2 linked regions of the Homo sapiens genome follow. The protein of the gene in region 1 purifies or fractionates together with the protein of each later gene. This does not show direct contact. Each region holds a gene or a part of one and is shown in the gene's direction. Other genes may lie near its edges.

The links. The genes of interacting proteins can lie anywhere in the genome.
Region 2: the proteins of MIER1 (region 1) and SIN3B purify together in Homo sapiens (co-immunoprecipitation; one large-scale study listed by IntAct). This does not show direct contact.

The regions. Positions count from the first base shown.
Region 1 is NC_000001.11:66,973,587-66,977,139, forward strand, and holds part of MIER1 (mesoderm induction early response protein 1), read left to right. Parts: exon of another isoform or gene 1-1,932; intron 1,933-3,008; coding exon 3,009-3,136; intron 3,137-3,553. UniProt on the Homo sapiens protein: Transcriptional repressor regulating the expression of a number of genes including SP1 target genes. Probably functions through recruitment of HDAC1 a histone deacetylase involved in chromatin silencing.
Region 2 is NC_000019.10:16,867,276-16,870,925, forward strand, and holds part of SIN3B (paired amphipathic helix protein Sin3b), read left to right. Parts: intron 1-2,184; coding exon 2,185-2,800; intron 2,801-3,650.

The DNA.
Region 1 (3,553 bases):
AGCTTTATAATTACTTACAGATTTGTTTTGGGGCTTAATTCTTATAACTGAAATTAGGTATGATTTTTAATAGTAACCATATAATTATATAGAATAGAAAAATGTGTTGTTTCCATGAGCAACACATTAGGACAACAGATTAGGACAGGCAGAATTAAAGTCTTGGAGATTAAATGTAGGAAATTAATTCCCAGGCTTATGATTATCACATTATTTTTAGTTAGTAGAAATGACAAGGGTATTGGTTTATGTAATTCCTTAAAGATAGCTTCTAAGTTTTGTGTCGTAGCTTGTCCAGGACCTTGTTGAAAGTACCTGGGCTTATGTCTGAGGCTCTGAATAGTCTTCTGCCACAGCTCTCTTTTTATACATTTGGATGTGATTGGATTGTATCCAGTTGATTTTTTTGACACATATTTAATATTTTTTGTTATTAATAAAATATTTACAAATCCTGTGGGTTCATTTCTTAAATTTTGTCGTGCATTAACTAGTTTATTCTTATTTTTATTATTTTTTTTTTAAGTGGGAACTGGGCAGTGAAGAGCCCCACTCCCAATTAGTTCATTCTTAATTATTTTGTTGAATGTTGGCAGTTTACCGCAGATAACACTAATAGAGAAATGTTTAGTTTTAGCATTTAGGATAACTTAGAAGACAATGTAATTAGTTTCAAAAATGTATACCCCTAATGTTGTGTTCATATCATCTGATAACCTCAAATATAGTTAACATTCAAGAAAAGGAGTGCATTATGTGACTGGCCGTGTATGTTTTTGATTAAAAAAGAAAAAAGTTCGTTGTTTCATGGTTGAAAGGGACAACATTTTTGGATGAGGTTTTTTTTTTGTTGTTGTTGTTGTTGTTTTTTAACACTTCTGCTTGAATTAAAACACTCTTAACCAAACCATGCTGAATTACCTAAGGAAGGGACCCCTGGAATGATAGCTTATGTAACAAGCAGCAGCAACAACCCTGACCAATATGATTTTTTTAAAGGAGTTAAGAAATTATAGGTGACTTGAAACTTAGAGCCAAGTAACATAAGTATTAAAAGTATAACCTTGATTTCTCATAAATATTTGGGACAGTGGCATTTAAATGTTACAAGGTAGAAGTCAGCTGACCTCTACATAATACACTAAATTACTCTAGTGCACAAAAAGAGGACAGTAATTCTTTAAAAGGGAGACGAGTACTCTAGTGAGAATATCGAGTTTGTTTTTATGTCTGGAATTAAAGTTCAGATCTTAATCATAAGTTCTATTTTGAGGGCTTTTGTTGAAGATTTTTCATAATCTTAACTTTGCATGCCCCAAAATGACTTTATCTTTTTGCTTTCAGTAAAGTACAGTTGACTTAGTTCGAATCTATCTAGAAATAAGATCCTAGAGGAGACAAAAAACAGCTTGAGAGGATGATTTTTTTTAAAGTCCTGATTGCTGTCAGTCTCAGAGCAATATGGATCAGAGCTGTACAGTGCAAACGGGAAGAAAGCAAAATATATGTTGGGTAAGGGAGGGTATCATCAACATTTGTCCTTTAGGTGCAATCAGTGCTACAGAATATTTACTTCAAGAGCAGAAATTTATGGGATAAAGAAGTATATTGCATCCAGAACACATACAGACACTGGATTTCCTTTTAAATGGTCAGTATTGCCGGTGCAGTGGCTCATGCCTGTTATCTCAGTACTTTGGGAGGTTGAAGCATGCAGATTGCTTGAGCCTGGGAGTTCAAGAACAGCCTAGGCAACATGGCAAAACCCCATCTCTACAAAAAATAGAAAAATTACCTGAGTTTGGTGGCATGCAATTGTGGTCCCAGTTATTGAGGGTGCTGAGGCAGGAGGATTGCTTGAGCCTGGGAGGGCAAGGCTGCAGTTAGCGGTTTGGTGCCACTGTACTCCAGCCTGGGCAACAGAGCATGACACTATCTCAAAAAAAAAAGAAAAAGAAAGGAAAAAAGTTATCAGTATTTTATTTATATACATCAGCCCTAAATCCTCAGTATTTTATATATATACATCAACCCTACCACCAGTTCTCCCGGCTAAGTAACAAAAAGGAATTCTGTCAGCATCATTTAATTCCGTAGGCATTTAACATTATGTGAGGGGAGCCATTCAGTTGCACAAATAGGTACAGCACAGTAAGCCGCAAGAGTAACTTAGTAAACAAAGCATTAGCATTATTATGATACTTTTAACTCACTGTGGCATCTTCCCAGACTTTCTAGAGAGTAAATTAACTGAGTCTGGGTTGCTGTTGGGACTAGTAAGAGAATCTTTCAAAAGGGAATTTAAAGATACGCTCCCTAGGTACCCGTACTCTGTGAGTAAAAGTATTAGCAAACTGTTTATAACATTTATTTTAACATGAATGCCACTTCCAGGCCTTTTTTTTGTGTGTGTGTGTGTGAGACTGAGTCTCATTCTGTCACCCAGGTGGGAGTGCAGTGGTGTGATCTCAGCTTAATGCAGCCTCTGCCCCCACCCCCACCCCCTGCTGGGGTTCAAGTGATTCTCCTGCCTCAGCCTCCCGAGTAGCTGGGATTACAGGCACCTGCCACCATGCCCGGCTAATTTTTGTATTTTTAGTAGAGATGGGGTTTCACCATCTTGGCCAGGCTGGTCTTGAACTCCTGACCTCGTGATCCACCCCCCTTGGCCTCCCAAAGTGCTGGGATTACAGGCGTGAGCCACCGTGCCCGGCCAACTTCCAAGCATTTTTAATACAGGAATATATTTTTCTAGTAAATTAGGATGATGGTAGCATTTTAAAAAGCACAGTGCTGTATATCTGAAGACCTGTTGCCAATATATTATTTCTCTTAATAGATGTTTAGAAAGAATAGCTTTCAACATAGCTGCTACACTGTTGTATGTTATATATAGGATTATATTTCAGTTAAGGACTAGCCAAATTTATTTTCAAACTTCAGATGTTTATCATGAAGTAACTTTGTTAAAAAGGAGATTCTTAAAAGCAAGCATTTGTTTCTTACAGGTCCGAACAAGGTCAGTTGGTGAATGTGTAGCATTCTATTACATGTGGAAAAAATCTGAACGTTATGATTTCTTTGCTCAGCAAACACGATTTGGAAAGAAGAAATATAATCTTCATCCTGGTGTAACGTGAGTTAATTTTTTCCTTAAGAGCTATATATACATTTTTGCTAAGCTTTTCTAGATTTTTCTTGAGTTAATTATTATTTTGATAATCTTGCTTTTATATACTTGATCTTAACCAGAAGGCCGAGAGTGATAAAATCTTGCTTTTATAATACACATTAAACTTTACCATCTATTATATCTTCATAAATAAGGCATTTAGACTTTTCAGTGTCTTATGAAATATTGTAAACTACAGTTCATATTATGTATGAGACAAGCATATCATTAAAGCAAGATTTAGAATGTATATTTTTAATACACTGTTGAGAAGAAATGGATCAGAACAGCTGTGAAAGCATGTTTTTCTTAAATTCAGTTCCATTCAGTATAAGCACATACAGTTTTAATCTTCTTTTTTTTTTTTTGAGATGTAGTCTC
Region 2 (3,650 bases), on another chromosome or scaffold:
GAGGTTGCATTTGCCTGGGCTGGTCGCAGGGGGCCAGGGCTCTGAGTCATTGGGTTCGAGGCTTTCGGCTGCATGTCCTCACTGCAGGCTCACAAGGCCTGAGTCATAGAACCAAGGCCAGCGGGGCCCTCAGGTTGCCAGGAGCTGGGCCTGTTAGTAGCTGTGTGTAGGGAGTGCCTGCTTGCAGGATCCTGAGGTGGGAAGCTTGGCAGGGTGCCGGGCGTGGTGATAGCCAGCTGTCGGGAAGGTCCTTGGACACTCTGAGGAGGTGGCTTAGGAGGGCACACTACTCCCCAGGCAGTGCCCAGATCATGGCACGGGCTGCGTTATCAGCCTGGTGCCCACCTGGGCAGGGGGTGTTGCCTCACCTGATTTGGTTTCTTGCTCCTGTCACTGCACAGTGAGCGGTCGCTCCTTCTTTTACAACACAGAAACGGAATCCACAGGAGCCGGGCTGCTGGCCCAAGGCCTCTCCCAGAGCCTGTGGGACTGTGGGGACCCCCTTCCCTCCCACCTCCCTTCCCGTGGGCCACCCTCGCCCCAGGCCCACCCACAACCACTCTGGCTTCCTCACTCTAGTCCTCGGCGATCCTCAAGCCCAAGACCCCGTATAGGTTCTGTGGGTCTGTGGTGTCTGCAAAGTGCAGATGATGAAGTAGCCCTGGAAATCCACCAATGCGACCCTGAGTTCCTGGATCCCTCCCTGGGGCTGGGGCTGACAAAGGGAGGGGCACCAAGGTTCATATGCAGATCTCTGCACATGCAGGTCCTTGATGAATTCCAAAGTCAGAACCCCATTCCATCACGTGATTTACAAAGCATGGTTACAGATCATGGACATGGGGACCCTGCTTCAGAGGGGACTGTAAAGGAATTTTCAGAGTGTTTATGGCATAAATGAGACCTGGGGGACTTAGGAAGCAGTCAGAGGGCGATGGTCACACTGAAGAGCCCAGAGCAGGGCTGAGCGTGCAGACTCCTAGGAACCAGGTCAGTGTGCTTGGCCCTACCAGCCTCTAAGCCGCCTTGCAGGGGAGGAGGAAGGGAAACCTCAGGCTGCTAGGAGACCCGGTCCTTCCCTCGGGAGCCTGCAGAGATGGCATCCACGCTCATTTTCCCCAAGAGCCCTGCTGCGTCTGCCTCCCTGCCTTGGACTGAGGGGGTTGGGGCTGCCCAGCAGAGGCCCTGGGTGCCAGGACAGTGGTGTGGGAGGCTGGAGGAAGGGGTGATTGTCTAATGGTGTGAGGGAATGAAAGTCATGATCTAGATAAAGACCAAGGGGAGGGGTGAGCCTGGGACAGGGTTTTCCAGGGAGTGAGAGCAGATGGGCATGTGCAAAGGCCCTGCACACGCAGGAGGGAGCTTGGCGCGGTGAGGCTGGAGGAGCTGTGGAGGGGCACATCAGGGGCCGGCGTCTTCTGAGCAGCCTGGGAAAGCCTGAAGGGCATTAGTTGGGGTGACCATGCTCCTGTGGGCCAAGTCACCCTGGACCCAGTGAGGAGAGTGGTTGGAGCAGGCTGGTGGGAGCTGGTGGGAGGGCTGGTGACATGATGGTGGTAGCAAGCACGTGCAGGGGCTGGCGGGGACAGCAGCGGAGGCGGGGGCTTGGTGACGATGGGCGTGCAGGTCTTCAGATGTGAGCAGTTGCAGGCCTTCCGGGTAGTAGATGGAGGGCAGAGGCAGAGAGGTCACGGCTCACCCTTTGCCTCCTTGACTTCATCGATAGCATGGTGTGGGCAGCCCCGGTCGAGCTGGAATCAGGCGCCACCGTTGCTTTCAGTAGGAGGAGGTCAGCCTCAGAGGCTTCTCCATGCTGAGCCACGGGGCCCCGTTCTGTCCTGGAGCTGGGCTGAGCGACAGACCCAGGCTTGACGCTGTCAGACCCCCTGTGAACCCCGCCCCACATCTCAGAATCCTCTTGGCTCCTTTGTCTGGGGTCCCGGGATGACTTGGGTCTGCCTCACTTTCGGAGAGGGGACCAGGAGCACATGGGGCTGCACAAGAGGTTGAGGCAAGCGACCTACCCCCCAGGCCCTGCTGCCTCACCGATGTTCGCCACCCATCCTGCTCTGGGCAGCGCTCATCCACCTTGGTGGCCCAGTTAACAGCGAGTCGTGAATGGGCACTGGGGGTCCTCTGGGTGCTGGGTGGCTTTCCACCTAATGGCCGCCCTTCCCCCCACAGCACCAGGAGCAGCACTCGGAGGGCCGCAGTGCCCCCTCTAGCGAGCCGCACCTCATCTTTGTGTACGAGGACCGGCAGATCCTGGAGGACGCAGCAGCGCTCATCAGCTACTACGTGAAGCGGCAGCCGGCCATCCAGAAGGAGGACCAGGGCACCATCCACCAGCTGCTGCACCAGTTCGTGCCCAGCCTCTTCTTCTCTCAGCAGCTGGACCTGGGCGCCTCCGAGGAGTCAGCTGATGAGGACCGGGACAGCCCCCAGGGGCAGACCACAGACCCCAGTGAGCGGAAGAAGCCGGCGCCAGGACCCCACAGTAGCCCCCCAGAGGAGAAGGGGGCCTTCGGGGATGCCCCGGCCACTGAGCAGCCACCCCTGCCGCCCCCAGCCCCGCACAAGCCCCTGGACGATGTCTACAGCCTATTTTTTGCCAACAACAACTGGTACTTCTTCCTGCGCCTGCACCAGACCCTGTGCTCCAGGCTGCTGAAGATCTACCGCCAGGCGCAGAAGCAGCTTCTGGAGTATCGGACCGAGAAGGAGCGGGAGAAGCTGCTGTGTGAGGGCCGCAGGGAGAAGGGCAGCGACCCCGCCATGGAGCTGCGGCTGAAGCAGCCCAGTAAGGCTCCAAAGCCTGCCGGGAGGCCCCGGGGGGTGCCTGGGGTTAGGGGTCACAGCTCATGATCTGACATGTCCTGTTACTTTTCTTTCTGGCTTTTCATTTTAAGAGAATTCTGTGATTTCAAATGGGAAATTGCAAACAGGAAGTTGCCAGCATAAGACAGAGGTCTCACGTACCCCTCGCCCAGGCTCCCCTGGCCGTGGCACCTGTCCTGGGTGTAGCACCCTCTCCTGACTGGGGAACATTTGTTTCTCATGGGCTTTCTCGTGGAGCCGTCATGGCCCAGCTCCACAGTACCCTTTTTCTTTCTTTTTTTTTTTTTTTGAGATGGAGTCTTGCGCTGTTGCGCAGGCTGGAGTATAGTGGCAGGATCTCGGCCCACTGCAACCTCCACTTCCCAGGTTCAAGTGATTCTCCTGCCTTAGCCTCCCAAGTAGCTGGGATTACAGGCGCTCACCACCATGCCTGGCTCATTTTTTGTATTTCTTTTTTGAAATGGAGTCTTGCTCTATTGCCCAGCCTGGAGCACAGTGGCATGATCTCGGCTCACTGCAGCCTCCGCCTCCCAGGTTCAAGCAATTCTCTGCCTCAGCCTCTGAGTAGCTGGGATTACAGGCACCCACCACCATGTCCGGTTATTTTTTTTTTGTATTTTTAGTGGAGACGAGGTTTCACCATCTTGACCAGGCTGGTCTTAAAACTCCTGACCTTGTGATCCACCTGCCTCGGGCTTCCAAAGTGATGGGATTACAGGCATGAGCCACCGCGCCCAGCCCAATTTTTTGTATTTTTAATAGAGACAGGATTTCACCATGTTGGCCAACCTGGTCTCAAACTCCTGAACTCA